3 separate regions of the Homo sapiens genome follow, and all the other regions are linked to region 1. Evidence: fine-mapped expression QTL. A gene starts in region 1. Each other region holds a variant in brackets. All regions are shown on one strand. Distances are between the middles of the regions. Region 1 holds the start of BSPRY (B-box and SPRY domain containing). Region 2 overlaps ALAD (aminolevulinate dehydratase). Region 3 holds the start of RNF183 (ring finger protein 183).

Region 1 (10,595 bases):
CCTTTGTCTTAGTCCATTTTGTGCTGCTGTAACAGAATACTACAGACTGGGTAATTTATTATGAACAGAAATGTATTTGGCTCATGGTTCTGGAGACTGGGAAGTCCAAGATCGAGAGGCTGCATCTGGTGAGAGCCTTCTTGCTGCATTATGACATGGTGGAAGACATCACATGGTGAGAATGCAGGAGTAGTGAGGGAAGGGGACAAACCTATCCTTCTATCAGGAACCCACTCCCACAATAACATCATTAATCCATGCACGAGATCAGAGCCCTCATGATCTAATCACCTCTTAAAGGTCCCATCTCTCAACACTGTTACAAGGGGAATTCAGTTTCCAGCACATGAACTTTGGGGGACATGTTCAAACCACGGCAGCCTGTGGCTCTGCCTTATTTAAATATAATCCTAGTTTTTGGCTCTTTATGGCCTGAGTTGGTTGTTCTCTCCTGGACTTGCCCAGATTGATAACACCCCTTCTGTGACATGGGCTGGTCTGAAGAGCCCTCTGGAGAAGAGAGCTGTTCTCATCTAGTTTAGTCTGGCCTGAGCAGAGAGCACTCTGTCATTGGGAGGCTTGGACTTCATCATAGAGGACCCATGTGATCTGAATTTGTCTGCATGGCAGGCTGCCAAATCCCTCTTAAAAGTGACAGTTAAAGCTGGCTGTACTGTGAAAACACCCCAGGAGGAAAAGAAGCCACAGTATTGGTAGTCTTATTGCTGTTCCTGGAAACCATGCAAACCCCAGTCAGATGACTTCCAGCCCTGGCACCAGAGATATTGGATCAGTGTCTGAGAAGGAAGGAGGAATGGACACAGGCCCAGGCAGAAGGGGGCTGGGCTGGGCCAGGCCAGGGCCCCACCAGGCAGGCAGAAAAGGCTGGGCCTGACACCGAGGAGCAGGCCTGAGGGAAAGTAAAGGCTAGGGAAGAATAGTCCTTTCCAAAAGACTTTCCAAAATGTTCATTAAAATAAAAAGTTTAGGCCAGGCCTGGTGGCTCACACCTGTAATCTCAACAATTTGGGAGGTTAAGGTGGGAGGATCACTTGAGGCCAGGAATTTGAGACCGGTCTGGGCAACATAAAAAGACTCAGGTCTCTACAGAAGTTTTTTTTGTTTTATTTTTATTTTTATTTTTTTTTGAGACGGAGTCTCGCTCTATCGCCCAGGCTGGAGTGCAGTGGTGCAATCTCGTCTCACTGCAAGCTCTGCCTCCCGGATTGATGCCATTCTCCTGCCTCAGACTCCCGAGTAGCTGGGACTACAGGCATCTGCCACCACACCCAGCTAATTTCTTTCTTTTTTTTGTATTTTTAGTAGAGACAGAGTTTCACTGTGTTAGCCAGGGTGGTCTCGATCTCCTGACCTTGCGATCCACCCACCTCGACCTCCCAAAGTGCTGGGATTACAGGTGTGAGCCACCACACCTGGCCCAGAAGTTATTTTTTTTTTAAAGTTTTTTAAAAAAGATCCAAGCCAAATGTTATAAATGAGCAAGTGAAAGGGCAGGTTAGAGAGCAGGTTGTACACATAATCCCAATTTTGTAAAATAAATATGTTCCAGCTTGTATCATATAGTGGGAGCTAATGAATGCTTTAACCTATGTGTGAGGACCTGTAAGTATATTTGTAGCAGTTTTTCACACATTGTAAATCGTGTGAGGTTCTTTGAAGATTGGGGAGCAGAGTTCATGGTACAGAAAGACATCTTGCACTTGCTAGTCCTCTGTCTGGAAATCTCCTCCCCAGATGTTTTCATGCCTTGCTTCTTCCAGTGCCACTTACCTGAGAGGACTTCTACACCATCCTTTCTACACCAGCACCTCCATCATGCTCTTTTTCTTGTAATACTTGAATCTTTTTCATAGCCCTTATCATTACTGACATTATATTACATATCCATTTGTTGCATTTTATTTGTGCATGAAAGTAGACTTTGTTCTTCTTGACTGTTGTATCCCCAGTGTCTAAGGCCTGGCACATTGGCAGGGGCTCAATAAATCTGTTGAATGACTAAAATGTAACAATGGTGTCCATTCTTCTCTCCCTAGCTCAGAGTGCCTGAAGTTCAAGTACAGCCCTGCCTATGCCCATGAAGCCTCCAGAGGTCCCCTAAGAGCTCTAAGCAGCTTTCAAATTTTTTTGACCTCATAAAGAAGTACATTCATTCTCCACGGTGCATATGTACGTATATATAGGCCAAAGACAAAATTACAACAAATGTAGTTGAGTGATCTTATTGGCTTTTATTAGCACTTCTAGAATCAGGCAACACCTAATTCTATAAAACAGAATGTTCCAATGAGCTGAACAGAGGACATGGGCTTTATAGGTAGAAAAGAGCTGGAAAAAAAAAGAGGATTACTCATTTCAAAGTTACTTTCCTTTTAGGGTTAAAACAGAGAGGACTTCCTTATCATGCCAGCTAATTCTGTACTGTTTGGGGATTTTAATATGCTCTCTCTTTCTCTTTTTCTCTCCCAATTTCTTGGAAGTTCAGATAAACTACTTAGTTTTGGTTTGGTGAAGTGGCAGTTTAGCATGAGTAACTCCATTTTGTTTTGGTTTGGTATGGTGGGGCCTAGTGTGGAAGCCCAGTCCAAAACAACGACCTTCCATCCATTTTGTTTACCTATATATATGTAATTGAAACAACAAAAACCTTACTAAGAGCATGTTTTCTGTTCTTTATTCTTTTCTTTTTTTCTCTTTTGGAGACAGAGCCTCACTCTGTCACCCACCACCCAGGCTGGAGTGCAGTGGTATAGTCTCTGCTCACTGCAACTTCTGCCTCCCGGGTTCAAGTGATTCTTCTGCCTCAGCCTCCCAAGTAGCTGGGACTACAGGCATGTGCCATCACGCCTGGTTAGTTTTTGTATCTTTAGTAGAGACGGAGTTTCACCATGTTGGCCAAGCTGGTCTCGAACTCCTGACCTCAGGTGATCCACCTTCCTCAGCCTCCCAAAATGCTGAGATTACAGGCGTGAGCCATTGTGCCCAGCCTTTTCTTTCTTTTTATAAAAGATGCTGATCTCCACCCCTTGAATTTCTTGATATGCCACCTAATAAAGGGTTGCCACTGCCTTAGGGCAGTGTTTCTAGAAACAGTCAAGGGGCTCCTTTGCATCCTAGTCAAGGAGTGACTGCCACAGATGCAGCTTCTTGGCTTCATCCCAGACTTAATGGATGAAAATCTTACCGGAAAGTCTGCGTGTTTTACAACTCCTCCTCTTTCCCCTCCTGACCATCCCCTGTCCTCCAACGATTCCGAAGCCTGATAAAGCTTAAGAGCTATAACCGGGGAGTTTATGAGTATCCCAGATGTGTCCTGCAGGGCTTGATGAACAGATAGGGAAAGGGCGATTCTCCAGTTCCAGTCCAACTTGGCTCATAAGTGGTGAAACAGAGGAACCCGACTTGATAAAAGTAAATCTACTCCTACCTTAGCCCTTTGCATTTGCTGATGCCACTACCTGAAAGTAATTCTGGTGATTTAGGGGCTGTTTTCCAGATCCTGGACCTGGTAGGGCCAATGACTGCTCTAGGGCCACACCCAGTGAAGGCCCCCCTCCCCCCCCCCCACCTTTCCCTAAGGATTTTAACCCTTGTTCCTCCCCCTGCCCTCCACAACCTCTTTTCTTTCTTTTCTTTTCTTTTCTTTCTTTCTTTCTTTTTTTTTTTTTTTGAAACAGAGTGTTGCTCTGTTGTCCAGGCTGGAGTGCAGTGGCGCGATCTCAGCTCACTGCAACCTCCACCTCCTGGGTTCAAGCGATTCTCATGCCTCAGCCTCCCCAGCAGCTAGGATTACAGGTGTGCACCACCATGCCCGGCTAATTTTTGTGCTTTTAGTAGAGACGGGGTTTCACCATGATGGCCAGACTGGTCTCGAACTCCTCAAGTGATCCGCCTGCCTCAGCCTTCCAAAGTGCTGGGATTACAGGCATGAGCCACTGCTCCTGGCCACACAACCTCTTTTCTTTTTAGCCTTCACACAAAAAGCACCTCCTATTTTCTTTGTTTTCACCATAGGGTTTAATAATTCCCCATCCCCAGTCCTTAGAAGGAAAAAATTCTAACCACAATCTCTAATTACCATGGCCTATTTCCCTCCCCACCCCCAGAGGAGTGTAGATGCTGTTATGAGGCCATCACCCTCCCACTGGGATGCACTGGAAACTTCTTTAGATGCCAGGAAAGCAGCACCCCTGTCGCCAAAGAACCTCACACAATTTACATTCTGAAACCTGCTACAACTGTATTTACAGATCCTCACACATATAATAAAACCTTTTATTATCCCCTACTGTATATCAGACACCCAAAGTAAATACTTTGTAGACAAGATCTCATTTCATTCTTGAAGTAGCCCTCTAAGGTAGATGATAGTATTATTATCACCTCTGTTGTAGAGATAAGAAAACAGACACAGAAGCTGTGAGTAACCTGACCAAGATCCCATAGCTGTAAGCTGCATAGCTGGGATGAAACCAATGACTATATTTCACTCAGTGTTCTCTCTAATCATATGGTGTAATATTGTCTATCTGGGGTGACAATGTGTCCCCATTGGATGATGACACCACTGTGTACCGCTCTGGGTAGCTCTGGGGCTGTTAGCTGCCCTTACCCCTCAGGTGCTAAAGCAGTAGTGGCTGAGAAGGAAAGGGTTCTATCTCCTTTGTGTGGCCATTGCTTAGAGAAGCTTCAGAGTAGAGGTGCTAGAGCCCCTGTGAGCTATGGGATGTAATGTTTCTCTTTCGGTTTAGCTCCCGCCTGTGTTCAGTTCTGATGCACTCAGAGTACTCTCTGACACCTGAAGGCCTGGGCCCTTCCCCTTTTGAGAGAGTGCCCAGCTTTCTGCCAAGACTCCTAAGAAAGAATTTGGGGTTGGTGGCCGGGCGCGGTGGCTCACACCTGTAATCCCAGCACTTTGGGAGGCTGAAGGGGGGAGATGGCTTGAGCCCAGGAGTTTGAGATCAGCCTGGGCAACATGGCAAAACCCTGTCTCTACGAAAAATACAAAACTTAGCTGGGCACGGTGGCATGTGCCTGTAGTCCCAGCTACTCAGGAGGCTGAGGTGGGAGGATCACTTGAGCTGGGGAGGTCGAGGCTGCAGTGAGCTATGATTACACCACTGCACTCCAGCCAGGGTGACACAGTGAGACCCTATCTCAAAAAAATAAAAAAAAATAAAAAAAAAAAAGAAGAAGAAGAATTTAGAGCTGGAGAGCAGCGTTCTCCTTGTATGCCCAGACAGACTAGACTGGATCCCCAGCAGAGGGCTCAATCTGGGCTCAGACTAATATATAAGATCCTGAGGGTGGGAAAAGCCCTAAACAGCTCAGGAACATGTTAGCAGTTTTTCTTTCTGGGGTGGGAGTGGGTGGATTTTTCTTCCACATGCTTATTTGCATATTTTGTTTTCTTCGAAATAAAAAGGCATTACTTTTTTTCAATGCTAGTTTAAAAAGAAAACTCAAATATTCAAATTCAAAAAGTTTGGATGTAAATACTTTGGGAAAATCAGCCTAATACAGATATTTCTCACTGGGCCTCAATGTTCAATTTAAAAAATTATTAATTATAGTAACCTTAAGTCACACTGCCTAGGTTCCAATCTCATAGCTACCAATTAGTAACTGTGACCCTTGGCAAGCCACTTAACTTCCATAAAAATGGGATCCTAATAGTACTTTCCTCGCACTGTTAGTAGACACTTAGCGATTGCAGCTGCTATGTTCCAGATATTGTTTTACGTATTTAGCGTATTTACTCCTCAGACGTCTGGGAGGCAGGTACTCTCACCCCATTTTACAGCTGGAGTTCCCACCCAGTGAGCAGCCAAACGGGATTTGAACCAGGCAGTTTCTCAGCAGAGCCTTGCTTGAAGCTAGGCATCTAAAGCTGCCTCTCAAAAAGGGCAGTGGTCGGGATTACATAACAGAACGCTTGCAAAGCTCTCAGCGAAAGCCTGGCACTTAATAAGTGCTCAATAAAGTTTCCTACGGTCACAGTAATATTTGGAGTTTTATGTTTGTTGTAGAACAAATACGCATACAATCGCGATTTCATTCAACAAGGAATTTAAAGAGACCTGCTGCCCCGGGCGGGATGGGAGCGCGGGTTGGGTGGGAGGAGGCGCAGCTGCGGGGCGCGCTGGCGCACCGGGAGGGCCGGGGGCGGGGTCAGCCAGGCCCCGCCCGCCGCCACCTGCGACAGGTGGAGCGCACGGGGCGGGCGCACGGCCATGTCCGCCGAGGGCGCGGAGCCGGGGCCGGGGTCCGGGTCCGGGCCCGGGCCGGGGCCACTCTGCCCCGAACACGGCCAGGCTCTGAGCTGGTTCTGCGGCTCCGAGCGACGGCCCGTGTGCGCCGCCTGCGCGGGGTTGGGCGGTCGCTGCCGGGGGCACCGCATCCGCCGGGCGGAGGAGCGCGCCGAGGAGCTGCGGGTGAGCGGGTGTGGGCGCCGGAAGGCGAGGGCTCCGGAGACCCCGGGCGCGCCTGGCGGGACCCGGCAGGGACTGGGGAGCCTGGGGCTGGGCGGACTCGACACCCGGCCCCGGAGCCTAGGCTCCTCGGTGGCTTTGGCTGTAGGACTAGGCGGTTAAGGGTGTGGCCTCTGAAGTCAGGCTGGCCTGAGTTCGAATCTACTCCCTGTGAGTCACGTAACTCTGAGCCTCAGTGTCTTCATCTGTAGTTTGGGGACAACAACAATAATAATAGCGCGTATTTATTAGAGTTGTGAGAAATAAATAAGATAGTGGGTAAAATGCTTAGCGATAAGGGGATCCAGGCTCCCCAGGCCCCTTCCATTGCTCTGTTGAGGAAGCTGGGGCTGGCATGAAAGGCTCAGCTGCTCCAGTTCTCAGCGCAGGGTGTGCCCCAGCTCCCGCCCCTGTGGAAACTGACACTGATAAAATCCAGCGCGACCGTATCCCTTAACCCCTGGACTCAAAGCCCCCCTCCTCCTTTCGCCTCTTCCCCCTGCTCCTAACCCCTTCTGGCTTCTGGTGCGGTGATCTCTTTTTCGCTTTCAGGATTGGCCTTGACTGTACTTCAGGCTGGTTTAAGGGCTTCAGCTGGATAAACGGTGGGGGTAGGGAGAATATCAGGGGATTCCCCTTCACCCAGGCTTTCTCGCCACCTCCACTTCCAGCTCGGCTCCAGGGTGGCCACCTCCTTGTCATCACCATTCTCCTGAGCTGCTGAGATTGGGAGAGTCGAAGTCACCTTGGGCTTCTCTGTGGCCCCTGGGGATTTCCTTGCAATTTGATTAAACAGCTTGTTTCTCCCAACCCGACTCTGCAGTTCACCCCTGCTGTGAAGCCTGAGGGCTCTGGCTGGGGACTTCGCCTACCCAGAGTGACCTGTAATAAACACATCTTATATAGGGTGCTGGGCTCGGGAGGGGTTCAGTTTTTCAGCAACACCCAAAAGCTCCTGGTTCGTCCTACCTGTTACCTCTATCAACAATAATGATGACAAAAATAAACCTGGATAACGCGGTGTAATCAACTTGCATAATGGACAAAAAAATTTGCAAACTCCAAAGTACTTAAATGTCTGTCATCTCATTCTGTCTTGACCACGCCTTTGAAGGGGTCCTACCTACATTTTACAGATGAGGCACTGGAGGCTCGGAACAAGGCAGTAACTCCTCCAAGCTTCCTAATGTTCAGGGGTGGGACCCAGGGAGTCATTGACTAGGCAAGAGGAAACTGCTGCTTTGCTTCGGCGGTTGGAGGGAGGAAGTGATGCTAATGGGGGTGAGAATGTCATGGAAACCTTAAAAGTAGCTATCAGGACTGGATTTGAGTGGTGGAAAGAGTGAAGCCTCGGGCAGGTGGCAGGCCTGGTGCTAGTTTCGGTACTACCCTAGGGAACCTTCTTTGAACCCCTCTGAGGCCGTATGCATATTTATCTCCTTTGCCTGAAGGGAGGTGGGTCTTACCCTCTCTTCCACCAAATTAGAGTAGATTTCTGTCTTTTGCACATTCCTTCCTCTATCCATCCAGTCAGCAAATAAATCTCACCCTAGGGCAAGATTATTACCAAAACCAGCACCAGTTCTACTGCTCTCCTACCTCTGGATTCCTGCCCTGTGGTTTTTCAGAAGCCTTCTCAGTGCTCTTAGTCCATGGTGCATGGTGATCACAGCTTCCTCCTAGTCAACTCAATTCTGTAACTTTGTATTTGGACCTATGAAATGTAACTAATTTCTACTTCTGGGTGGAAAGATTTACAAGGGCTTCCTGGAAGAGGTAGCTAAGTTGCCTTTTGGCAGATGGAACTGAGGCAGAACTCTTAGGGGGAACAGTGGAGGGACTGCTGCTTGGATAGGCTCTAGGTATCACCTGGAGAAACGGAGAGCAAAAGCAGGGCCCTGGCCCATACCTTCTTGGGGAAGTCACTTCTCTTTGGGCCTCAGCTTTCCCGTTTCTTTCTCTTTCCTTTTTTTTTAAAATTTATTTACTTATATTTATTTATTTTTGAGACAGTCTCACTCTGTCACCCAGGCTGGAGTGTGGAGTGCAGTGGTGCTATTTCAGCTCACTGCAACCTCTGCTTCCTAGATTCAAGAGATTCTCCCACCTCAGCCTCCCGAGTAGCTGGGACTACAGGCGCATGCCACTACGCCTGGCTAATTTTTGTATTTTTTGGTAGAGATGGGGTTTCACCACGTTGGCCAGGCTGGTCTCGAACTCCTGATCTCAGGTGATCCGCCCACCTCAGCCTCCCAAAGTGTTGGGATTACAGGTGTGAGCCACCGTGCCCGGCCAGCTTTCCCATTTCTAAAACTCCCCTGAGCTCATGGATGATGCTCATAGCTTTGAGAGCCATGAACTGCTGAACCTCTTGTGGTCAAGGCAGTGGGTGTTCGTTCATTCAACAAATATTTATTCAGGGCCTTCTATGTTCAGAAACTCTCTTTGAGGTACTAGGACATAGAGAAGTCAGACTTATGGTGCTTCTGTTCCAGTGGTGGGGGAGACAGATACCCAAAAAGGTAAACAAACACATAATATATAGTCAGAGAGTTATAAGTGCAAGGGAGAAAAATAAAGCAAAGTAAGAGATTGGGTGAGGAGGGAGATGGTCAGGGAAGACCTCTCTGAAGAGATGACATCTGAATGCAGTTGGGGAGTGAGACACACACACACACACACACACAGACTGGTGGAAACGGAACTGCAGGTGCAAAGGCACTGAAGTCAGGACAAGTTTGGTACATTTAAGGAACAGAAAGAAGGCCAGCATGGATAGAGGTAGAAAGTGATGTTGGAGAAATAAGCTGAGTCACATCAGGTGGGGCTAGGTTGGCTAAGCTAAGAAGCCTGATGTCATTGTGAGTGTACTGAAAGCCATTGGAGGGTTTTGAGTAGGGGCATGACCTGGTCTGATTTCCTTACAAAAGGTGGCTCTGGCTAGCTGGGGGGTTGGGGGTGCAGGGTACCCAGTTAAGAGGTTCTAACAGTGGTTCCTGTGAGAGATCATGGCAACCTGGATAGAATAACTGGAGTAGAGGTGACCAGAGGAGAGAGAGAGACTTTGGAGATGGGGTTGATAGGACTCACTAATGGAATTGATGTGGGGTTGGAGACAAACTCCTGGGTTTTTGGTCTGGGTAACAGGTGAATGATTGATGGTGCTGCTTAATGAATGAGGATAACTTGGCAGAGAGCAGTTCTGGACAGAACAGAAGGTATGGACAGTCAGGCAGCTGAGTATGACGGAGGACCAAGAGTGTGTGCGCCAGAAAGTGGTTATAACGGGCTGAGCGTGGTGGCTCACACCTGTAACATCCCAGCACTTTGGGGGGCTGAGGCGGGAGGATTGCTTGAGCCCAGGAGTTGGAGACCAACCTATGCAACATGGCAAAAGTCCATCTCTACAAAAAATGCAAAAAGTAGCCAGGTGTGGTGGCACGTGCCTGTAGTTCTAGCTACTCAGGAAGGACATGGGAGGATCACTTGAGCCTGGAAGGTCAAGGCTGCAGTGAGTCTTGATCATGCCACTGCACTCAGCCTGGACGACAAGCAAGACTCTATCTCAAAATAAATACATAAATAAATTTAAAAAGAAACAAACGCCTGGGTGCGGTGGCTCACACCTGTAATCCCAGCACTTTGAGAGGTCAGGGCGGGCAGATCACCTGAGGTCTGGAGTTCGAAACCAGCCTGGCCAACATGGTGAAACCCTGTCTCTACTAAAAATACAAAAATTAGCTGGGTGTGGTGACACACACCTGTAATCCCAGCTACTTGGGAGGCTGAAGCAGGAGAATCGCTTGAACCTGGGAGGTGGAAGTTGCAGTGAGCCGAGATCGCACCACTGCACTCCAGCCTGGGCAACCGAGTGAGACTCTGCCTCAAAAAATAAATAAATAAAAAAAAATAAAAATAAACACAAGACAAAATGGACTTTAAGGCAAACATAGTACTAAAGATAAAGTCACTTAGAGAATGTGCAGTTCACCAGCAACATATAATGATTCTAATCTTAAATGTTTCTAAATAATATAGCCTGAGAATATTCATAGAGCAAAAATTTGTTTTAAAGTTATTATAATGATAGGCTGGGGTTCTGGG
Region 2 (10,595 bases), 35 kb after region 1:
ACCTGGCCTCTTTTTGTTTTTAAGAACCCTGTGGTACCATCCTGGCTAACACGGTGAAACCCTGTCTCTGCTAAAAATACAAAAAATTAGCCGGGCATGGTGGCAGGTGCCTGTAGTCCCAGCTACTCGGGAGGCTGAGGCAGGAGAATGGCATGAACCCGGGAGGCGGAGCTTACAGTGAGCCAAGATTCTGCCACTGCACAATATTTGCCTGGGCAAAGAGCGAGACTGTGTCCCCAAAAAAAAAAAAAAAAAAAAAGATCCCTGTGGTAAGAGCCTGGAATCCTAACCACTAGACCACCAGGGAGCTTTTTTATTCTTTTGAAGAATAAAAAAAGAGTTTTATCTTTGTTTGCAAAAGTAATGTATGTTGGCTGGGCGCGGTGGCTCACGCCTGTAATGCCAGCACTTTGGGAGGCTGAGGTGGGTGGATCACCTGAGGTCAGGAGTTCAAGACTAGCCTGGCCAACACGGTGAAACCCCGTCTCTACTAAAAATACAAAATTAGGCGAGGTGGTTCATGCCTGTATTCCCAGCTACTTGGGAGGCTGAGGAAGGAGAATCGCTTGAACCGGGGAGGTGGAGGTTGCAGTGAGCCAAGATCAGGCTACTGTATTCCAGCCTGGGTAACAAGAGCAAAACTCCATCTCAAAAAAATAAAAAAATAAAAAAATAATAAATAAATAAGGTATGCATGTAATGCATGTTAGTCTCAAAAAACTAAAAAATACAAACATATGAGAGTTGGCCATGCAGAGGGGAAGGATCTGAGTGATGGTTAAGGGACCCCCTGATGCAAAGGCCTCCAGGCAAGAAAGTTTTTTTTCCGAACCAAAGAGACACTGAGGAACTATAGGAATGTTGCTAGCCAGGGGGTTTGGGCCAAAGAGGCTGGGGAGGTACCGGAGGGGAAGCTTTGAGATACTTCTGTGCCTGTGCTCTGTTCCTCTTTAGTCTCATCACCTTGCACTATGACCTTAGGCAAGACAGGTCATAAGACAGCCCCCACCACCCAGGCCCCTTTGAGAGGGTCTTGCCGCATACCCTGGAGGAAGGAACACTGCACAGAGAGGCCAAGAAGAATCTACACAGATGGGTCTTGGTGGGTTTCTCTATTCAGTCTATTAGCGTTTTGTGCAATCCTGTTTCTACATGTGAAGGGGTGGCCTGCCCCTCCACACCTGTGGGTATTTCTCATCAGGTGGGACGAGAGACTGAGAAAAGAAATAAGACACCGAGACAAAGTATGGAGAAAGAACAGTGGGCCCAGGAGACCGGCGCTCAGCATACGGAGGACCTGCTCTGGCACTGGTCTCTGAGTTCCCTCAGTATTTATTGATTACTATTTTCACTATCTCAGCAAGAAGAATGCGATAGGAGAGCGGGCTGATAGTGAGGAGAAGGTCAGCAAGAAAACATGTGAGCAAAGGAATCTGAGTCACAAATAAGTTCAAGGGAAGGTACTATGCCTGGATGTGCACACAGGCCAGATTTATGCTTCTCTCCACCCAAACATCTCAGTGGAGAAAAGAATAACAAAGCAGCATTGCTGCCAACATGTCTCGCCTCCCGCCACGGCGCGGTTTTTCTCCTGTCTCAGAATTGAACAAATGTATAATCGGGTTTTATACCGAGACGTTCAGTTTCAGGGGCAGGCAGGAGACAGAGGCCTTCCTCTTATCTCAACTTCAAGAGGCCTTCCTCTTTTACTAATCCTCCTCAGCACAGACCCCTCGCGGGTGTCGGGCTGGGGGACGGTCAGGTCTTTCCCATCCCACGAGGCCATATCTCAGGCTGTCACATGGGGAGAAACCTTGGACAATACCAGGCTTTCCAGGGCAGAGGTCCCTGCGGCTTTCCGCAGTGTATTGTGCCCCTGGTTTATCGAGAATGGAGAATGGCGATGACTTTTACCAAGCATACTGCCTGTAAACATTTTGTTAACAAGGCACATCCTGCACAGCCCTAGATCCCTTAAACCTTGATTCCATACAACACATGTTTCTGTGAGCTCAAGGTTGGGGCAAAGTTACAGATTAACAGCATCTCAGGGCAAAGCAATTGTTCAGGGTACAGGTCAAAATGGAGTTTCTTATGTCTCCCTTTTCTACATGGACACAATAACAGTCTGATCTCTCTTTTCCCTACATACACGGCCATGTACACTTCGTTGAACCTAAGCATAAAAATGGACAGTTTCCTCTGTATCTGTGGCTCTTCATTCTGAAGGCTCCCATGTCACAAAAAAACTATGATCAAATAAATGTATATGCTTTTTCTCCTATTAAAAAAAATACAGACATATTCAGGGTTAGGCATAGTGGCTCATGCCTGAAATCCTAGCACTTTGGAAGGCTAAGGTGGAAGGATCCCTTGAGCTCAGGGGTATGAGACCAGCCTAGGAAACAAAGTGAGACCCCATCTTGTTAAAAAATAATAACAGGCTGGGTGTGGTGGCTCACGTCTGTAATTGCAGCACTTTAGGAGGCCGAGACCAGTGGATTACTTGAGGTCAGGAGTTTGAGACCAGCCTGACCAACATGGTGAAACCCCATCTCTACTAAAAATACAAAAATTAGTGGGGCATGGTGGCAGGTGCCTGTAATCCCAGCTACTCGGGAGGCTGAGGCACAAGAATTGTTTGAACCTGGGAGGCAGAGGTTGTAGTGAGCTGACATCACAGCATTGCACTCCAGCCTGGGTGACAGAGCAAGACTCTGTCTCAAAAAATAATAATAATAATGCAAAATACAAACGTGTACAAAATAAAAAGCCAGCCCCCCACCAACACCCAACCTCATTCATTGACCACCTAACATCTGTGGGCTCTGTGTCCCCTGTCCTTCTCTGAGGATTCAGTGGGAAACAAGGTGGTTCCTGCCTGCATGGGGCATGGGAGGGGCAGACAACCATTGAGTAGATAAATAAACAAAGTGATTTCAGAGAGAGAAGTGGAAGCGGTAAAAACAATCATTTTATGAACAGTGACAGGGTATCTCTTTGGATGAGGTGGTCAAGGAAGGAACAAAGATCTGAATGGTGAGAAGGAGGTTGTCAGGTTAAGATCAAGGAAAGTACTCCAGGTGAGGAACCGGAAAGAAGGGTGTGGGGCCTCAGCCTGCTTACTGAACAAGGGCAGTAGCCTTGGGGCAGGGAGAGAAGGGCTTCCCCACCCCATCTCACTCCCCAGGGATTGCTGAGGTGACAGTTTTGGTTATGCTATGACACAGTTTTCTAGCAGCACACAAACATGTATCTAATTTTCTTTCTTTCCTCTCTTTCTTTCTTTCTCTTCCTCCTTCCCTCCTTTCTTTCTTTTTTTTTCATTCTTTCTCTCTGTCTCCCTCCCTCTTTTCTCTCTCTCCTTTCTTTCTCTCCCTCCCTCCCTCTTCTCTCTCTCTCTTTCTCTCTCTCTCTCCTTCCTTCCTTTCTCCCTCCCTCCTCCCTTCCCTTCCCTTTCTTTCTTTCCTTTCTTCTTCCCTCCCTCCCTTCCTCCCTTCCTTCCTCCCTCCCTCCCTCCCTCTCTCTCTCCCTCCCTCTCTCTCTGTCTCTTTCTCTCTTTCTTCCATTTTTGAGACGGAGTTTCACTCTTGTTGCCCAGGCTGGAGTGCAATGGTGCCATCTCAGCTCACTGCAACCTCCACCTCCTGGGTTCCAGCGATTCTTCTGCCTCAGCCTCCCGAGTAGCTGGGATTACAGGTGCCTGCCACCACGCCCAGATAATTTGTGTATTTTAGTAGAGACAGGATTTCATCATGTTGGCCAGGCTGGTCTTGAACTCCTGACCTCAGGTGATCCACCTGCCTCAGCCTCCCGAAGTGCTGGGATTACAGGCATGAGCCACCGAGCCTGGCCCTTTTTTTTTTTTTTTTTTTTTGTGAGACAGAGTCTTACTCTGTCACCCAGGCTGGAGTGCAGTGATGCGATCTGGGGTCACTGCAACCTCTGCCTTCCAGGTTCAAGCAATTCTCCTGCCTCAGCCTCCTGAGTAGCTGGGATTACAGGTGTGCGCCACTGTGCCCGGGTAATTTTTTGTATTTTTAGTAGAGACGAGGTTTCGCCGTGTAGCCAGACTGGTCTAGAACTCCTGACCTCAACTGATCCACCCACCTTGGCCTCCCAAAGTGCCGGGATTATAGGCATGAGCCACTGTGCCTGGCCTAATTTTCTTCCTTTCAACTCTTAAAAACAAAAAAACAAAACTTTCTCCTATGTTCCAAGTTGGTCTGTTCACTGGGTTCAGGCCTGGGAAGAAACACAAAGTGCAGAGTCACAGACTTTGGACCTGCAAGAGAGAGCCCGACTCACTTGCAAAACTGGTTTTGTGTTATAAGCATGAAGCAGAAGTGGGGGTGGGAAGGGCAACTGGGAGACCAGAGGTTCAACTGCATTTCACAGAATCCAAGAATGTCTGATACTGTCTACTTTTCAGGGTCACCGAAAACCTAACCCCTTAGGTTCTGATCCCAGCTCTGCCATCTGTCTGTCTGTGAGCTCTCCATTCAATTGTTTTTCTCTCTGAGCCTCAGTATCCCAATATGCAAAATGTGAATTTTCCCAAAGTGAACATACCCATGCAACCAGCACCCAGACCAAGAAAAAGAACAATTTCCAGAACCCTCCACAGCCTGTCCACTTCCAGTTACTTACTACCCAAAAGGGTAACTATCTTGACTTCAAACTGCATAGTTAAACTTTATTTGTTTTTGAACTGTATATAAACAGAATAATATAGCATGTATTTTTTATGCCTTGCTTCTTTTGCTCAAAATTGTGTTTGATACATCTGTGTTGCTATGTGTAGTTGTAGTTAATCCATTCTCACACCTTTAATATTCTATTATATAAATAGACCACATTTTACTGTTGATGAACATTTGGGTTATCTCCAATTTTGTTTATTACACTTCTTTTTTCTTTTTTTTGGAGACAGAGTCTCGCTCTGTTGCCTAGGTTGGAGTGCAGTGGCGCCATCTTGGCTCACTGCAACCTCCCACCTCCCAGGTTCAAGCAATTCTCCTGCCTCAGCCTCTCAAGTAGCTGGGATCACAGGTGCCTGCCACCACGCCCGGATAATTTGTGTATTTTAGTAGAGATGGGATTTCATCATGTTGGCCAGGCTGGTCTTGAACTCCTAAGCTCAGGTGATCCACCCACCTCAGCCTCCCAAAGTGCTGAGATTACAGGCATGAGCCACCATGCCCGGCCTTATTACATATATTATAAAATGCTGCTATGAATGCTGTTGAACATGTGTCTTATGAACATAGGTAATGTTGGGTAAATACTGTTGGGTAATACCTAGGTGTGGAATCACAGGGTCATAA[G/A]GTATGCATATGTTCAGCTTTGGTAAATAGGGCCAGACATTTCTTTTTCTTTTTTTTTTTTTTTTGCAGACAGGATCTCCCTCTGTAGCCCAGGCCGGAGTGCAGGCCAAACATGGCTCACTGCAGCATCCACCTCCTGGACTCAGGCAATCCTCCTGCCTCAGCCTCCCAAGTAGCGGGAACCACAGACATGTGTCACCACGCCCCGCTAATTTTATTTTTGTTTTTATTTTTTAGTATAGACATGGTCTCACTATGTTGCCCAGGCTGGAGCTAGACATTTTGTTTTCTTTCTTTCTTTCTTTCTTTCTTTTTTTTTTGTTCTTGTGGAGCCAGGCATTTTGAAAGGGTGTACCAGTCATATCTGAGAGTTCCAGTTGTTCTGCATTCTCAACACTTGACATTGTCCCATTGTCCTTTTAGTATTAGGCATTTTCTTTTTCGAGTCTCCCTCTGTTGCCCAGGCTGGAACGCAGTGGCACGATCTCAGCTAACTACAACCTCCGCCTTCTGGGTTCAAGCAATTCTCCTGCCTCAACCTCCCGAGTAGCTGGGATTACAAGCGCACACCACCACACCTGACTATTTTTGTGTGTGTGTGTTTTTAGTAGAGACGGGGTTTCACCATGTTGGCCAGGCTGGTCTCAAACTCCTGACCTCGTGATCCGCCCACCTCGGCCTCCCAACGTGCTGGGATTACAGGCATGAGCCACCGCACCCAGCCAGTATTAGGCATTTTTGTGGATGTATTGTGGTATCTCATTGCGGTTTTAACTTGAATTTTCTCCACTAATGAAGATAACACCTTTTCATATATGTATTGGTTAAGTTTTCATTTTTTATTTACATAGCCACACATGAATATATCCTTGTTACATATAATACATGAATAGAAATAATACATATAAAGCTAAAGTCCCTCTAAAACGAATCCCTTCACTAGTTTTATTTTTAATTGAAAAACATTTTTTTTGTAGCAATGGGGTCGTGCTTTGTTGCCCAGGCTGGTCTTGAACTCCTGGTTTCAAGCAATCCTGCCACCTCGGCCTCCTAAAGTGCTGGGATTACAGGTGTGAGCCACCATGCCCAGCCCCTTCCCGAGTTTTGAGCACTGGGCTTGGAGTTAAGAGACCTGAATTCCAGCCTTGGTCTGCCACTGACTAGATTGCTGTCTAATTTTGGACAGGTCACCTCTCTGGGTCTGTCTCCCCATCTATAAAATCAGAGTGTTTAACTAGATAGTCTCTAAGGATCTTTTTTCTTTAATATTCTGACCACTGTTTCTGTGATCCCAAGAACCTCCATTAGGTAAAAATGGCCATTTGCCTTACTATCCATTCTCTCCATCTTCCTTAGTAACTGAACTCCCGAGTTTTAGTTGAGCATATGGCTGGCCCACTAGACTATTTCCAGCCTCCCTTACAACTGGGCATGACCATGTGACTAATTTGAGACAAGGGTGTGTAGACAGAAATGATGTGTGCAACTTTTGGGTCATGACTTTATAAAGAAGGGTCATGCCCTCCATTTGCTCTTCTCTTCCTGCTGGCTGGAAAGAGGACCTGATGATGGGAACTGGCCCAGCCATTTTTTTGTTTTGTTTTGGTTTTGAGATAGGGTCTCACGCTGTTTCCCATGCTAGAGTGCAGGGGCGCAATCACCACTCACTGCATCCTTGACCTCCTGGGCTCGCTCCTGCCTCAGCCTCCTGAGTAACTGGGACTACAGGCATGCACGACCACACCCAGATAATTCTGTATTTTTTGTACAGACGTGGTTTCCTCATGTTGCCTAAGCTAGTCTCAAACTCCTGGACTTGAGTGATCCACCCATCTCAGCCTCCCAAAGTGTTGGGATTACAGGTGTGAGCCACTGTGCCCAGCACCAGCCATCTTTGTTCATGAGATGGAGGCCAAGATGTGTTGATGATGACAGAACAAGGCAAGAGCTGAGACCCCTCACAACATATTGCTGACATATCAGCCCTGGATTGCTTAGAAGTAAATTTTCATCTCAAGCTATCATTATTTTGGCTTTTGTTATATCCACTGAACCTGAATCCTGATTAATACAGAGTGACTGGAGAATGACTTTTTTTTTTTTTTTTTTTTGAGACAGAGTCTGACTCTCTGTTGCCCAGGATGGGGTGCAGTGGCATGATCTCGGCTCACTGCAACCTCTGCGTCCTGTGTTCTAGTGATTCCTCTGCCTCAGCCTCCCAAGCAGGTGGGACTACAGGCGCCTGCCACCATGCCCGGCTAATTTTTTGTAGTTTTAGTCTAGATGGGGTTTTGCCACGTTGGCCAGGCTGGTCTTGAACTCCTGACCTCAAGTGATCCGCCTGCCTTGGTCTCCCAAAGTGCTGGGATTACAGGTGTGAGCCACCACGCCCAGCTCCAAGAGTGACTTTAGATTGGGTGTTGGGTCAGGTTTCTCAGAGGAAGGGATGCTTTGAGCTGAGATCTTAACAAGAGAGACAGCCATATAGATTTAGGGGAAAAGCATTCCAAGCCAAGGAGGCCACTGGTGCAAAAGCTCAGTCCAAGACAGCGTTCTGTGTAATGAGGCCTACCTGGTCAATTGTGGCGCCATCTCCCATCCCATTGTTTACAGTGACTGAGCCAAGAGTGGACCATGTGGCCTGAACAGGCCCAATCAGAGACCTCCAGAGATTTGCTATGTGAGTGATGGGACAGGAAGGCTCTTTCTCTGGGATTACAAATCTTAACGACTATTTAAGCCTAGAATTATTGAGGATCATGTTGCTGGCAAGTGGCAAAAACCCACCTGAGTATAAAGCTGGGGCAAACACAGACGAGAGTTAGAAAGGGACAGAGACCTCCATGGGGTTTGACCCTGGGCCCAACCACACCTGTCCTTATCTCAATCCAGTTATGAAAACCAATCATGTCCTTCTTTGCTATTGAACTGGATTTCCATCACTTGCAACCAAGTAGGTGCCTGGTCTCCTTGGTCTCCCCGTATAACTGGGGCTAATTGCAGATGGTCCCCGAACTGTGATCATTCAATTCACAATTTTTGACTTTACAACAGTATGAAACAAGACATTCAGTAGAAACTGTACTTCAAATATTGAATTTTTATTCAAAATTCTTTACAACTTTATTACAATATAGATTTTGTGTTGGATAGTTTTGCCCACTGTAGGCTAATGTAAGTGTTCTGAGCATGTTTAAGGCAGGCTAGGCTAAGCTATGATGTTTGGTAGGTTAGGTATATTAAATACATTTTTGACTTATGATCATATTTTCAACTTATGATCATATTTTCAACTTATGATGGGTTTATCAGGATGCAAACCCATCACATAAATGGAGGGGTGTCTATAAAACATTGTTAGACCTATAATTTTGCTGTTGATTATTGGGAGGTGGTATGGCACAGTGGTTAGGGGCAGAGGCCTTGGAGTTGGACTACATGGGTTCAAATCCCAGCTTGGCTGTTTTCTGTGCAGTTCTAATCCAGTTCTGCCACAAACTTGTTGAGTGGCCTTAGGTGAGTCACATAAGCACTCTAGATATAGCTTCCTTATTGCAAAATGTCTCAAGCTAAGTTTAGTATTCTCCCTCCACCCCGACCCTGCTTCTGTTCCTCTTCCAGGCTGCCCCATCTCAGTAAATGGCCCATCAGCCACCCAGAAGGTCAAGCCAGATTCATCCTTCACATCGAATCTACCTTCTAAACACATCCACAATCCATTCCCCTTTCTCCATCCCCACTGTCCCCGCTCCAGTCCATGCCATCAAGACTTTTCATTTGCACTTTGCCGCAGAGCTGTTAAAATACTTTTACAAACTACAAATTTGATTGAGTCACTCTGAAAAGGTGAATGTGGCCCTTGACCTCTGCATGGTTTGGTCCTGGTCTGTCTCTCTCCACTCAGTTCAGGCCATCCTCTCAGTGCTCCAGACAAGCTAGCCTTGCATTCCTCCAGCTAGAAGGAGCCCCAGGGCCTTTGCACAACTCCTCCCTCTCCCTGGAATGCTCTTCCCCAATTGTCTTAGCTTGATGGCTCACCCTTCAGGTCTAGGCTCAAATGTCAGTCCTTCAGGGAAGTATTTTCTGATCCTTCAAAGAGGTCAGGTCCTGGTGACCTCCTTCAGAGCACCTGTCACCACATCACTGGTGCATGTCTGCCTCCTTCCCAACTACTGTTTCAAGAGAGGCCCCTTCCCTGTTGTTGTCTCAGACCCCTTCTTTCCTTCAAAGCACTTATCACAATTTGTAACTGCTTTATTTCTTTGTTTTCTTCTTAGCTGTCTCCCCAATTCTCTTTGTATAATTTCTATGAAGAGATAAGCTGAGGTCTGTCCTGCTGTATTCCCAGGACCCAGCACTGAACCTAGGAACAGAGCAGAGATTCTCAAAAAGTATCTCCTGAATAAAAAGTGTTTGTGGTGGTGGCACCTCTAGCAGTCAGGAACTCCCTCTTTGCCTCTGAGTTTTGATCCTCAGGCAGTATTTATGCTGGTTAATGAGTAATTCTTCTCTGGGTTTATGGTTCAGAGTAGAATAGGAGACCTCAGGCAGCCTGGCAACCTCTGGCCTCGTGGGAAATGCCTTCCAGTGGAATTGCGGCAAATTTCAACTCTAACCCAGGGATATCGATCTAGGCCTCATTCCCACACCCAGCTCTGCTGCCAGAAGCGTTCCAAGGCTTCTCAGGCCCCAAGATCCCACTGCTCTCTTCTTCCCCTAATGCTCCAAGACCCTCTCCCAGCCAGGCCCCAAAGGCTGTGCCCCCGACTCCAGGTTGCTTTCAAGCTGAAGCCACACCAGAGGAAAGAGCTGAGGGTGGCAAAGGTGGGCCTCACGGCTGACCCAGGGGAGGGGCGGGGAAGCTTGGGAGAGCTCATAGGATGCAGCTGCGAGTTACAAGAGTTAGCATGCTGGCAAAACCACCCAGGGCTGCTGGGCCCCGCTAGCATGTGAGCAGGAAGAGGGCATGAGGGCACAGTTCTAAAAGCAGCATTTACTTTGGTTTTCACTTGTCTGAGGCCCCGGGAACGTTTTAAAGTTCTAGTTCTTGGGCCTGGCACTGTCTCCATCATTCCTCCTTCAGCCACTGCAGCAGCTGCGGTGTGTAGTAGGTGATGATGATGTCAGCACCTGTGTTGGGAGAGATGCAGAAAGTTGCTGGGGGGACGCTGATCAGCTCTGAGCACACCTTCTGCGATGGGAAGGCCAGGCGGGGAAGAAGGCTACCATGAAGAAGCACAGCCTGTGGGCACACCACATGAGACGGAG
Region 3 (10,595 bases), 43 kb before region 1:
TCATCTACCCCGACTGAGCCGATGTCTGAAGCAAAACCTGCTTATACTCTCGGACCTGTGGCTTCCTGGTTTTCTTCTAGACCTCTGGCACTGCTCCAAACAGGGAAGGAGGAAATGAAGATATGCAGAGGGAGATGGAGCCCTAAGCGAAACTAGGGTAGTTTAGCAGGGCTCTGCACCAGTGCTTTATTCTGCAGTCCATTCATCCACTCGGACATTATTGAGTGCTTACTCTAGCCCAGGTGCTGTGCAAGGTATTATGGTGAACAAAATAGACATTGTCTTTGACCTCATGACATTTAGAGTGTAGTGAGGCAAAAAGACATTTAATGAATAATGGGCAATAAATAAATACACAATTTTAATGGTTGTTAATAAAGGGCAAAAAGGAAAATGGGCTTCGGGTGCTTGGTGGCTGCTCCCAATGAGACCACCAGAGAAGGTTTCTGCAAAGAGATGACAGAAGAGCTGAGACCAAAGTATATAGGAATCCAGCCACGCACAGTGGAGGAAGAGCGTTGCAGGCCCAGGGAACAGCATGTGTGGCCCCGAGGTGAGAAAAGCTCTTCCAATTTGAGAAAGTGAAAGGAGCCCAGGGTGATCAAGGTGTGGTGACCGGAGTAGGCAAGGTGGGAGGGTATAGTACTCGGGACCTGTGAACTCAGGAGCTCATCTGGATTTTATTCCAGGGGTGAGCGGTAGGGTAAGGTACCTGATCCTATTTCCATTTTTAAAACACCATTCTAGCTGCAGAGCAGAGGACAGGCTGAGAGGGATAAGATCGGGAAGGGAACACCCGTTCGGGCTGCAGCAGTGTGGCTCAGGCGTGTGATGGTGGTGCAGGTTAGGCAGTGGCAGAGGAGATAAAAGGGGATGGGATAAGTGATATCTTTGGGGACAGAATCAAAGCCACTTCCCAAGAAGCAGTGGAGTTCTAGGGATCCAGTTGTAGTTTCTGTCAAGGTTCATGATGCCAGATCCATGGCTATTTAGGGCTGTGATTCCAGTTGAATTGCTTGACCTCTCTGTGCCTCTATTTCTCCTTGTGCAAAGGAAGCCAAAACTAGTAAAGCTTTTAGTTAGAGCCCAGCACCCAGTAAAGACCACAAAGCAATGCATGACCTAAAAATGGGACTATGTTCTCAGAAACACATCGTTGTATGAACAGCACAGAGAGTATTTACACAAACCTAGATGGTAGAGCCTGCTACATGCCTAGGCTATACGGTCTAGCCTGTTGCTCCTAGGCTACAAACCCATACAGCTTATTATGTTCTGAACACTGTAGGCAATTGTAACACAATGATAATTGCGTGTGTCTTTCAACATAAACTTAGAAAAGGCAAGGTAAATATATGGTATTATAATCTTAGGTGGCCACCATCACATATGTAATTCACTGTTGATCAAAACATTGTTATGGATATATGAGGCAGTTGAAATTATTAATGCAAATGGATTTGAGAGAAAGGAAGGGTCAAGGTTGATTTCAAAGCCGTGACAAAGTCCTCTGCATCAAGCTTTGAGAAGCCCCTGAATCCCAGAGTGTGTTAGAAGCAGATCTTTAATACTTACCAGAGGCCGTAAACTGTATGTAACCTTGACTCATCATTTCCCCCACTGGGAATCGATTCCACGGAAACCATCAAGGACTTCTGCAAAGATGTGAGTAAAGAGATGCCCATCCAGGCGCTGGTTTAACGGTGACGTATGGAGAACTACGTCATCATCCAGTAATAGGACATTGATTAAGTAGATTCTGCTCCATCCATAGGAAGAGATATTATGCAGCCTTTAATATGATGTGGTAAAACTATTAATATGGATATATACCTAGGATATAATGTCATTAAGCGAAAAAGAACCAGCAACAAAACCATATTACCATATAATCCAATTTCCAAAAGTGTGTGTGCAATGGAAAAAATGTCTGGAGAGATAAACAACCAGATATTAGCAGTGGTTATCTCTGGGGGCAAGATTATAAGTTTTTTTTTTTTTTTTAATTCTCTTACCTGAAAATTCTAACTTTACTCCATCCAGTAAGCTTGTATTACTACACGTCAAGATCTCCTGTTTCCCCCCAAATCAGACCTACCTTCTCTGAAGTTCCATGGCCAGAACTGTAAAAGGCTGTCCAAGAGGAGGAAGCATCATTATTGCCTGGATCTTTATCTGTGCTGCTCTCCCAGGGATCCACTGCTGTTTCAGGATCAGCTGGGGAGAGATTCTGGCCATGTATCACCTCCACCCCAAGCCAGGACATCTCAGCTACAGTAAATCCTAAACACCGCCCCAAAGTCATCTCCTTGGTCTATGAACAAGTCATCGCCAAATATCAATTGTCCCCAGCATCACTCCATTGTTTTCAACCAAGAACTGGCATTTCCATAGCACTTCACAGTTTACAAAGGGCCCTGGCCCTTGCTAAGATCTAAGTGTGGTGATCCATCTAGATAGGTTACTAGCCTTTTGGGATTTTTTGTTGTTGTTTGCAGAAAGCCATTTGATACTCTAAAACCACCCTGTGAGAGAGGCTGAATGGGGAGTAGAAAGGTGCCGGCTTTGGAACCAGATTTGGAACAATTTGTCTTGGACAAATGGCTTAACCTCTCTGAACTTCATTTTCCTCTGTAAAAAAGGCTAATCATCCCACTCCTACAAGGTTGCTCTGGGGAAGGAATAGTCTATACGGTGCCCAGTAGAATACGGAAGGCGCTCAATACAGAGTTAGCATGATTATTTTTAGACCCATTTTCTAGATGGGGAAGCCAAGGCTCAGAAGGGTGAGGCAACTTGCCGAAGTCTTCCCAGCTAAAGAGTGGCTGAGTTTGAAAGATGAACCCAGTAGCCTGCCCTCCCAGGCCAGAGTTCACCTGTCGCGCGCTGCACGGCTGCTGCCTCTCTGGACTCTGGAGCCCTGTGACCCGTCCCTCCGCGACCCTCTCTGTCTCCTTACCTGCTCCCTCGGAGCCGCCTCCTCCGCCTCCGTTCGTGCAGCCCTGCACGCATGTGCTTTGTTTTCTGACTTCCCAGGCCCGATTTCCAGGTAGCGTGGGTGGGTCTTATTTGCATAGGTCTTAGCAGCGTTTGGCCAGCTCTCGCTGTTTCAGGTTTTCTTCTTCCTTCTGGTGACTTTGGACCTCCTGTACACCCTGGAAGCTTTGGTTGCTTTGTCTTTCTCCTGTGAGTCACTCTGGCTTTTTCTCTGAGGGGATCAAGTGCGCTCATCCTTGCAGGCCTCTGTTCTGGGTCCGATTGATCTCCTGCCATCCCCTCGGATTCCACTGTCCTCTGTGCGCTGACCTGCCTCGACTCCTGGCTTCTGCCGAGATGGATCCTTCCCTATGCTGAGTCCCTGTAACCAAAATACAGATAGCTCTTGCAAAATACTGACAAAAGCGGCCACTAATACAGCAGAAAAATAGTCGGGAGACGGTTGAGCGTCTGCCTGAAGAGCCAGGGTTCTCAAGCAAGGCACACTTCTAGGTCAGAGTTCAGCCCTCACTGAGAATCCAAACTCCGTTTAACTACCGATGGAGACTTGAGCAAATTAATTAACTTCTGCCAGCCTCAGTTTCCTCACCTGAAAATGGCCATAATAACCTACCTACTTGATCTGTAGATTAAATGAGGTAATACGTGTCGAGATCGCGTAATAACACAGGGCCTGGCAGACAGTAACTCGCTAAATGTTAACCAGAACTATTATTGTTATAACCGGTCTGTTCACGTGGCCCATCTTTTGTTCCCGCTCAAATTCTTTTTGTACCTATGGTCCTCTTTTCTTTCTCTCTCTCTTTCTTTCTTTTTTTTTTTCTTTCTTTTTTTTTTTTTTTTTTAAGACGTAGTTTTGCTCTGTCGCCCAGGCTAGAGTGCAGTGGGGCGATACTGGCTCACTGTAACCCCCACCTCCCTGGTTCCAGCAATTCTCCTGCCACGGCCTCCCGAGTAACTGGGACTACAGGTGCGCGCTACCATGCCCGGCTAATTTTTACATTCTTAGTAGAGACAGGATTTCGCCTTGTTGGCCAGGCTGGTCTCAAACTCCTGACCTCAGGTGATCCACCTGCCTCGACCTCCCAAAGTGCTGAGATTACAGGCATGAGCCACCGCGCCTGGCCCCTTATTTCTTTACTGACATTTTCAGCCATACTTGAGAAATAAACAAGTAAATAAATGTATCTGCTTGGTGATGTAATCAAATGCCCTAGTCCCCGCATTTTGTGTTTTTTTACATTAATTTTTATGTATTGATTTATTTTGAGACAGAGTCTCACTCTATCATCCAGGCTGGGGTGCGGTGGCACGATCACAGCTCACTGCAGCCTCAACCTCCTGGGGTCAAGCAGTCTTCCCACCTCCGCCTCCTGAGTACCTAGGACTACAGGTGCATGCCACCGTGGCTGGCTAATTTTTGTATTTCTTGTAGAGATGGGGTTTCTCCAGGTTGCCTAGGCTGGTCTCAAACTCCTGGGCTCCAGCAATCCACTTGCCAAAAGTGCTAAGATTACACTTGAGCCACCGTGCCCACATTTGATTTTTAAATAGGTAATATATTTACATGGTTGAGCATGTGAA[T/C]GGTTTGATTTCACAGTGAAAACTGTCTCTTCGCAGCCACCTAGTTTCCCTGGAAATCAAAGTATTATACTATCAGTTTGTTGTGTATCTTTCCAAAGATGTTTTATACATACACAAACAGCATGTCCATGGCAAAACATCTATGTATTCCTTTACCTCCTTTTTACACAAATGTGCATATTATGTACACTGTTCTGCATTTTTCTTTTTTCATTTGATGATGTATTTGAGATATCATTCTGTATTAGTACATAAAGACCTTCTTCGGTTTTTGGCCCAGCGCTGTGACTCACACCTGTAATCCCAGCACTTTGGGAGGCCAAGGCGGGTGGATCACTTGAGGTCAGGAGTTCAAGACCAGCCTGGCCAACATGGTGAAACCCCGTCTCTACTAAAAATACAAAAATTAGCCGGCGTCATGGTGCACACCTGTAGTCCCAGCTACTCAGGAGGCTGAGGCAGGAGAATCGCTTGAACCTGGGAGGCAGAGGTTGCAGTGAGCTGAGATTGTACCACTGCACTCCAGCCTGGGCGACAGAGCAAAAAAAAAAAAAGAAGACCTTCTTCGGTTTTTTAATGGTTGTATCAGATTTCATTGAATGGCTGTACCATAAATCACTTCACCAATCCCCTATTGATCTAACCCCCTCATTATAAATATATAAATATTGAATGAAAGAATAATGCAAAAATGCTGATTTTAAGTTAGCCTAGAATTGTGTGAAAATAAAACTGTGGACTTTGGGAAGTTTTAGATCTCTAAAGAAAATGTCTAAGTAATTCTCCTCTTTCTGAGCTGGAGACGAGGTATATGATCACCGATGGCCTCAAAGTTCCTCTCAGCTCTGGAATTCCCTGCTTTTCGGTGTCACTACTGGTTAACTGAGGTTACTGGGGATTCGAGACACTGATTTAGTCCAAAGAACCTGGTTTGTATTTGAGAGTTTGGAAGTCACGCTTTCTGGCTTGGCAACATAAGAAAACATAAAGAAGTTCATCTACTTTGACCTAATCATGTAATTCCCCAGAAGCATCAAAAAGATATATTTTGGTTGAGTGAGGATATTCATTGCAGTTTTATTTTAATCACAAATGATTGAAAACACTCCAAAACCCCATCAATTAGGTGAAAAACTACATAATCATTTAAAATGATATAGAAAGATTTTCATTGACTTTTAAAAATGGTCACAGTATACTGTAAATGGAGGGGGAAAGCAGCTTAAAAATGGTGCATGTTGGCCGGATACGGTGGCTTACGCCTGTAATCCCAGCACTTTGGGAGGCCGAGGCAGGCGGATCACAAGGTCAGGAGTTTGAGACCAGCCTGGCCAATATGTTGAAACCCCGTCTCTACTAAAAAATACAAAAAAAAAAAAAACTTAGCTGGGCGTGGTGGCAGGTGCCTGTAATCCCAGCTACTTGGGAGGCTAAGGAGGCAGGAGAATCGCTTGAACCTGGGAGGCGGAGGTTGCAGTGAGCCGAGATTGCACCACTGCATTCCAGCCCAGGCAACAGAGAGAGAATCCATCTCAAAAAAAACACAAACAAACAAACCAAAACCAAAACAAAACAAAACAAAAAAACGGTGCATGTTGGCTGGGCACATGCCTATAATCCCAGCACTTTGGGAGGCCGAGGTTGGAGGATTGCTTGAGCCCAGGAGTTCAAGACTAGCGACCCCATTGCTACAAAAAATAAAAAAATAAAAAATTAGCTGGGCGTGGTGGCACATGCCTGTTGTCTCAGATACTCAGAAGGCTGAAGTGGGAGGATCACTTGAGCCCAGAAAGTCAAGGCTGCAGTGAGCCCAGATTGCACCACTGCACTCTAGCCTGGGCAACAGAGCAAAGACCCTGTGAAAGATAGAAAAGAAAAAAAGAAAGAAAAGAAGAAAAGAGAGGGAGAAGGAAGGAAGGAAAGAAGAAGGAAGGAAGGGAGGGAGGGAGGAAGAAAGGAAGGGAGGGAAGGAGGAAGGAAGGAAGGGAGGGAGGGAGGGAGGGGAAGGAAAAGAAAAGAAAAGGAAAGAAAGAGAGAATGTAGCATAAGCCAGATTTTGTAAAGCATAATTTATGTATAAAGACTGCAAGACCATGAGGCAAAATGTCACAATTTTATCTCTGGGTGATGGCCACTCATGTTTTCGCTTTCTTCTTGCTTACATTTTCCAAGTTCTCAAATATGTATTACTTTTGTAGTAAGAAAGTTCACTTAGAAAGTAAGTTAAGTCTGAGTTTTCTGCAACCAGGGTATCCAGAACTTAAAAAGATAAGCAGGTAGGGCAGGTAAGAAGTCAGTCATGACATTGTAAGCATTGAAATAAAAATAAAATAAGTCATAGCCAGGCATGGCCTGTAATCCCAGCACTTTGGGAGGCCGAGGCAGGCAGATCACTTGAGGTCAGGAGTTCGAGGCCAGCCTGGCCAACATGGTGAAACCCCGTCTCTACTAAAAATACAGAAATTAGCCAGGCATGGTGGTGGGTGCCTGTAATCCCAGCTACTCTGCAGGCTGAGGCAGGAGAATCACTTGAACCTAGGAGGCGGAGGTTGCAGTGGGCCGAGATCGCGCCATTGCACTCCAGCCTGGGCGACAAGAGCGAAACTCTGTCTCAGAAAAATAAAATAAAATTTAAAAAGTCATGGCTTTTTTCCAGGTCACTAATTGTCTAGTGAGTCTATGCATTATCATAATGTCTGTGGGTGGTCAGGCTAAGGAGTGCTTTGCCAACAGTGAAAAATTTTTCCAGGGAGATACCCGGGAGAGATAGTGAGGCATCTCAGGAACTTGAGAGTTAAACTAATTTATAAAGTTCATGCTTGTGGGGGCAAGATCAGCCATCTGGAAAAGCACCTCACCTAAGCAGTACCTTAGACCCGGGTGAGTGAAGAGTCATGAGACTCGGTGGAGCCCAGCCAATGTCTGGAGCAGAGGCGTGGGGTGGTTTTAACTCATCTGGGAAGGAAGAGGTGGCAGAGGGCAGAAGGATGGAGAAAAGGTGATGAGTGCAGCAGGTTTAGAATCCGGCATGGTCAGTGTTTAGCAGGCCCCAGTCAAGGGCAGAGGGCAACTCTCCCTAGGGGGCCACCATGTCATCATCACTCAGAGCCTTGCCTGAGGCTTGTCTAGCATTTAGGACAGTTCCGGCAGCATAGGCATCACTTAGAGATTGTTAGAAATGCAAAATCTGGCCGGGCATGGTGGCTAACACCTGTAATCCTGGCTCTTTGGGAAGCTGAGGCAGGCAGATCCCTTGGGGTCAGGAGTTCGAGACTAGCCTGGGCAACATGGTGAAACCCCATCTGTACTAAAAATACAAAAATCAGCTGGGTGTGGTAATGGACACCTGTAATCCCAGCTACTCGGGAGGCTGAAGCAGGAGAATCGCTTGAACCTGGGAGGTGGAGATTGCAGTGAGCCAAAATTGTGCCATTGCACTCCAGCCTGGGCAACAGAGCGAGACTACGTCTCAAAAAAAAAAAAAAAAAAAAAAAAAGAAAGAAAGAAAGAAAGAAAGAAAGAAAGAAAGAAAAACAGAAATGCAAAATCTCAGACCCACTCCAGACCTACGGAGGCAGAATTTGCATTTTTACGAGATCCCTGGGAGATTCAGAGACACATTCATTACAAGTGAAGAGTACTGATTTAGGAGACATACCTCCAGTATATACTCCTTGATGCCTTCTGATTATATTCAGCTTCAGATTCATAAAGGCTCCCAAGGACCTGACACCTTAGGCAGGGCAACGTGAATCCCAGCCTGGGGATGGGCACCCCCGGCCTCTGCTGTGTGCAGCATCTGAATTTGCTTTCCAAGTCACAATCCCTTATTCAAAACATTTGGTTCCAAGTGTGTTTCAGAATTCAGAATTTTTCATAATTTTAGGAAGGTAAGATGATGCATTTGCCAACTCTCCCAATTCTCCCAGTGGGATCTGGGGCAGTACCCTATATTCAAACATTGATATCTTGCAGCTTATTATGAATATTGACACCGAAAAGAATAAACATCACAAGATCAGGTAAGTTTTGGCACCAAATTTAATGGAAAACCTTAGTTTTCAGGCTGGGTGCGGTGGCTCACACCTGTAATCCCAGCACTTTGGGAGGCTGAGGCGGGTGGATAACAGGGTCGGGAGTGCGAAACCAGCCTGGCCAATATGATGAAACCCTGTCTCTACTAAAAATACAAAAATTAGCCAGGCGTGGTGGCACGTGCCTGTAATCCCAGCTACTCAGGGGTCTAAGGCAGGAGAATTGCTTGAATCTGGGAGGTGGAGGTTGCCGTGAGCCGAGATCGTGCTACTGCACTCCAGCCTGGGCAACAGGGCGAGGCTCTGTTGCAAAAAAAAAAAAAAAAAGACAGCAAATAAACTCACCTAAAACTTTAGACACAGAGATAATTGCCCACACATTTGGATTATAGCTTTTGTCTCTCTTTACATTTTAAATATATATTTTATATATTTTAAAATAATATATATACTTTATATAATTTCATATAAAATGTCACACTGTATGTAGTTTTCTAGCCTCTGTTTTTCACTTTTCATCTTTTTATATAATCAAAGAGTCTTCTACAGCCTTTTCTTCAAAATCAAGGTAGTTTTATTGTATTTTGGTTGTAAAAGTGATAATAGGAAAAAACAAACATATATTTGCTTATATGTGCATAAAGTCTCTAAAAGGATACACTAGTTGCTGGTCACACTGTTTACCTCTGGAGGGAGCCAGATGGAAGGCAGACAGGGACGAGAGAAGAATTTTTATTGTATAATCTTTTAGACTCTTGATTATTACTTTGTGAATGTATTCTCTATTTCAAAAATAAAATTAAAAAAACTGGTACATCCTCACTGCAAAAGAAATCAAGCAATATAGAAAGGAACAAAGAAGAAAATAAATTCATCTTTAAACTCAATACCCAGATACAACACTGTTAGTATTTTTGCCACATTTCTTCCAAGTCTTTATCTATGAATGTACAGACATGTGTATGGAGATATTTTTACCAAAATAGGATGATGCTGTACGATGGTTTTTGTTACCTGTGTTTTTCATGTAGGGTGAATCACAGACAGCTTCCATGCAGCCTCATTTTAAACATCTGCATTGTTATTGCATGAAGTTAGCCAGTTACCAAAAAATTAATCCAGGTGAACTGAGTCCAGCATCTGAATACGCAGTGCCAGGTAACACCAACCCCCTGATCCAAAGCTGGGATTTTCTTTTCTTTTCTTTTCTTTTTGTTTTTTTTTTGTTTGTTTGTTTTTTGAGACAGAGTCTTGCTCTGTGGCCCGGGCTGGAGTGCAGTGGTGCGATCTCAGCTCACTGCAACCTCTGCCTCCCAGGTTCAAGCAATTCTCCTGCCTCAGCCTCCTGAGTAGCTGGGATTACAAGCATGCACCACCATGCCTGGCTAATTTTTGTATTTTTAGTAGAGACGGGGCCTCACCATGTTGGCCAGGCTGGTCTCGAATTCCTGACCTCAAGTGATCCTCCCACCTTGGCCTCCCAAAGTGCTGGGATTACAGGCGTGAGCCACCGTGCCCGGCCCAAAGCTGGGATTTTCAATTTGCTGTCTGTAGGATCTTGAATAGGCAGGATGTTATGTTCCAGAACCTGGAGAGATAACATATGGGAACGGGCTGGATGTTCCTTCTGTCCATGGTGTTTAAACCCATGTCGCTTATTCCATAGGTACAAACACCTCTACCTGCCCCCTTCCCCTCAGCCTTTATGCCCACTACCACCAGGATGATGCCAGAGAGGGCCTTGGTGGCCAGAGCCAGTCTGCATGTCAAAGACCCGAGCTCCCATTTGGGCTCCACCACACACTGAGTGATCCTGGGAAAGTCACTTTTTCTTCTCTGTAGAACAGAGATAATAATCTCCATGATGCCTTTCTCAGAGTGTTGTTTTGTTAGAAGAATCAGATAAGGTTATGACTGTGAAAGTAGTATGTAAAATACAGGGCACTCTACACATAGAAGTTTTTATTGTTAAAGTCTGGC

What was found.
Region 2: its variant is fine-mapped to the expression of BSPRY in unexposed skin (GTEx, PIP above 0.99). The same link has a PIP of 0.9 or more in sun-exposed skin.
Region 3: its variant is fine-mapped to the expression of BSPRY in whole blood (TOPMed, PIP above 0.99). The same link has a PIP of 0.9 or more in blood mononuclear cells.

The regions. Positions count from the first base shown.
Region 1 is chr9:113,343,326-113,353,920 of GRCh38, forward strand. It overlaps BSPRY (B-box and SPRY domain containing), which reads left to right and starts at 6,216. Exons shown (of 6, transcript NM_017688.3): 1 at 6,216-6,455. The coding sequence starts at 6,255. RefSeq lists silencers at 6,184-6,253, 6,284-6,563, 9,191-9,240.
Region 2 is chr9:113,377,905-113,388,499 of GRCh38, forward strand. It overlaps ALAD (aminolevulinate dehydratase), which reads right to left. Exons shown (of 12, transcript NM_000031.6): 12 at 8,408-10,457. The coding sequence ends at 10,396. Among named protein-coding and RNA genes, the nearest start is that of HDHD3, 6.2 kb to the left of the region's middle. RefSeq lists an enhancer at 3,189-3,248. The variant G/A (reference allele first, on the strand shown) is at 5,328.
Region 3 is chr9:113,300,097-113,310,691 of GRCh38, forward strand. RNF183 (ring finger protein 183) reads right to left here and starts at 3,280. Exons shown (of 5, transcript NM_001371237.1): 1 at 2,960-3,280; 2 at 2,099-2,217; 3 at 1,576-1,655. RefSeq lists enhancers at 5,551-5,720, 7,486-7,655 and a cis regulatory region at 7,571. The variant T/C (reference allele first, on the strand shown) is at 4,582.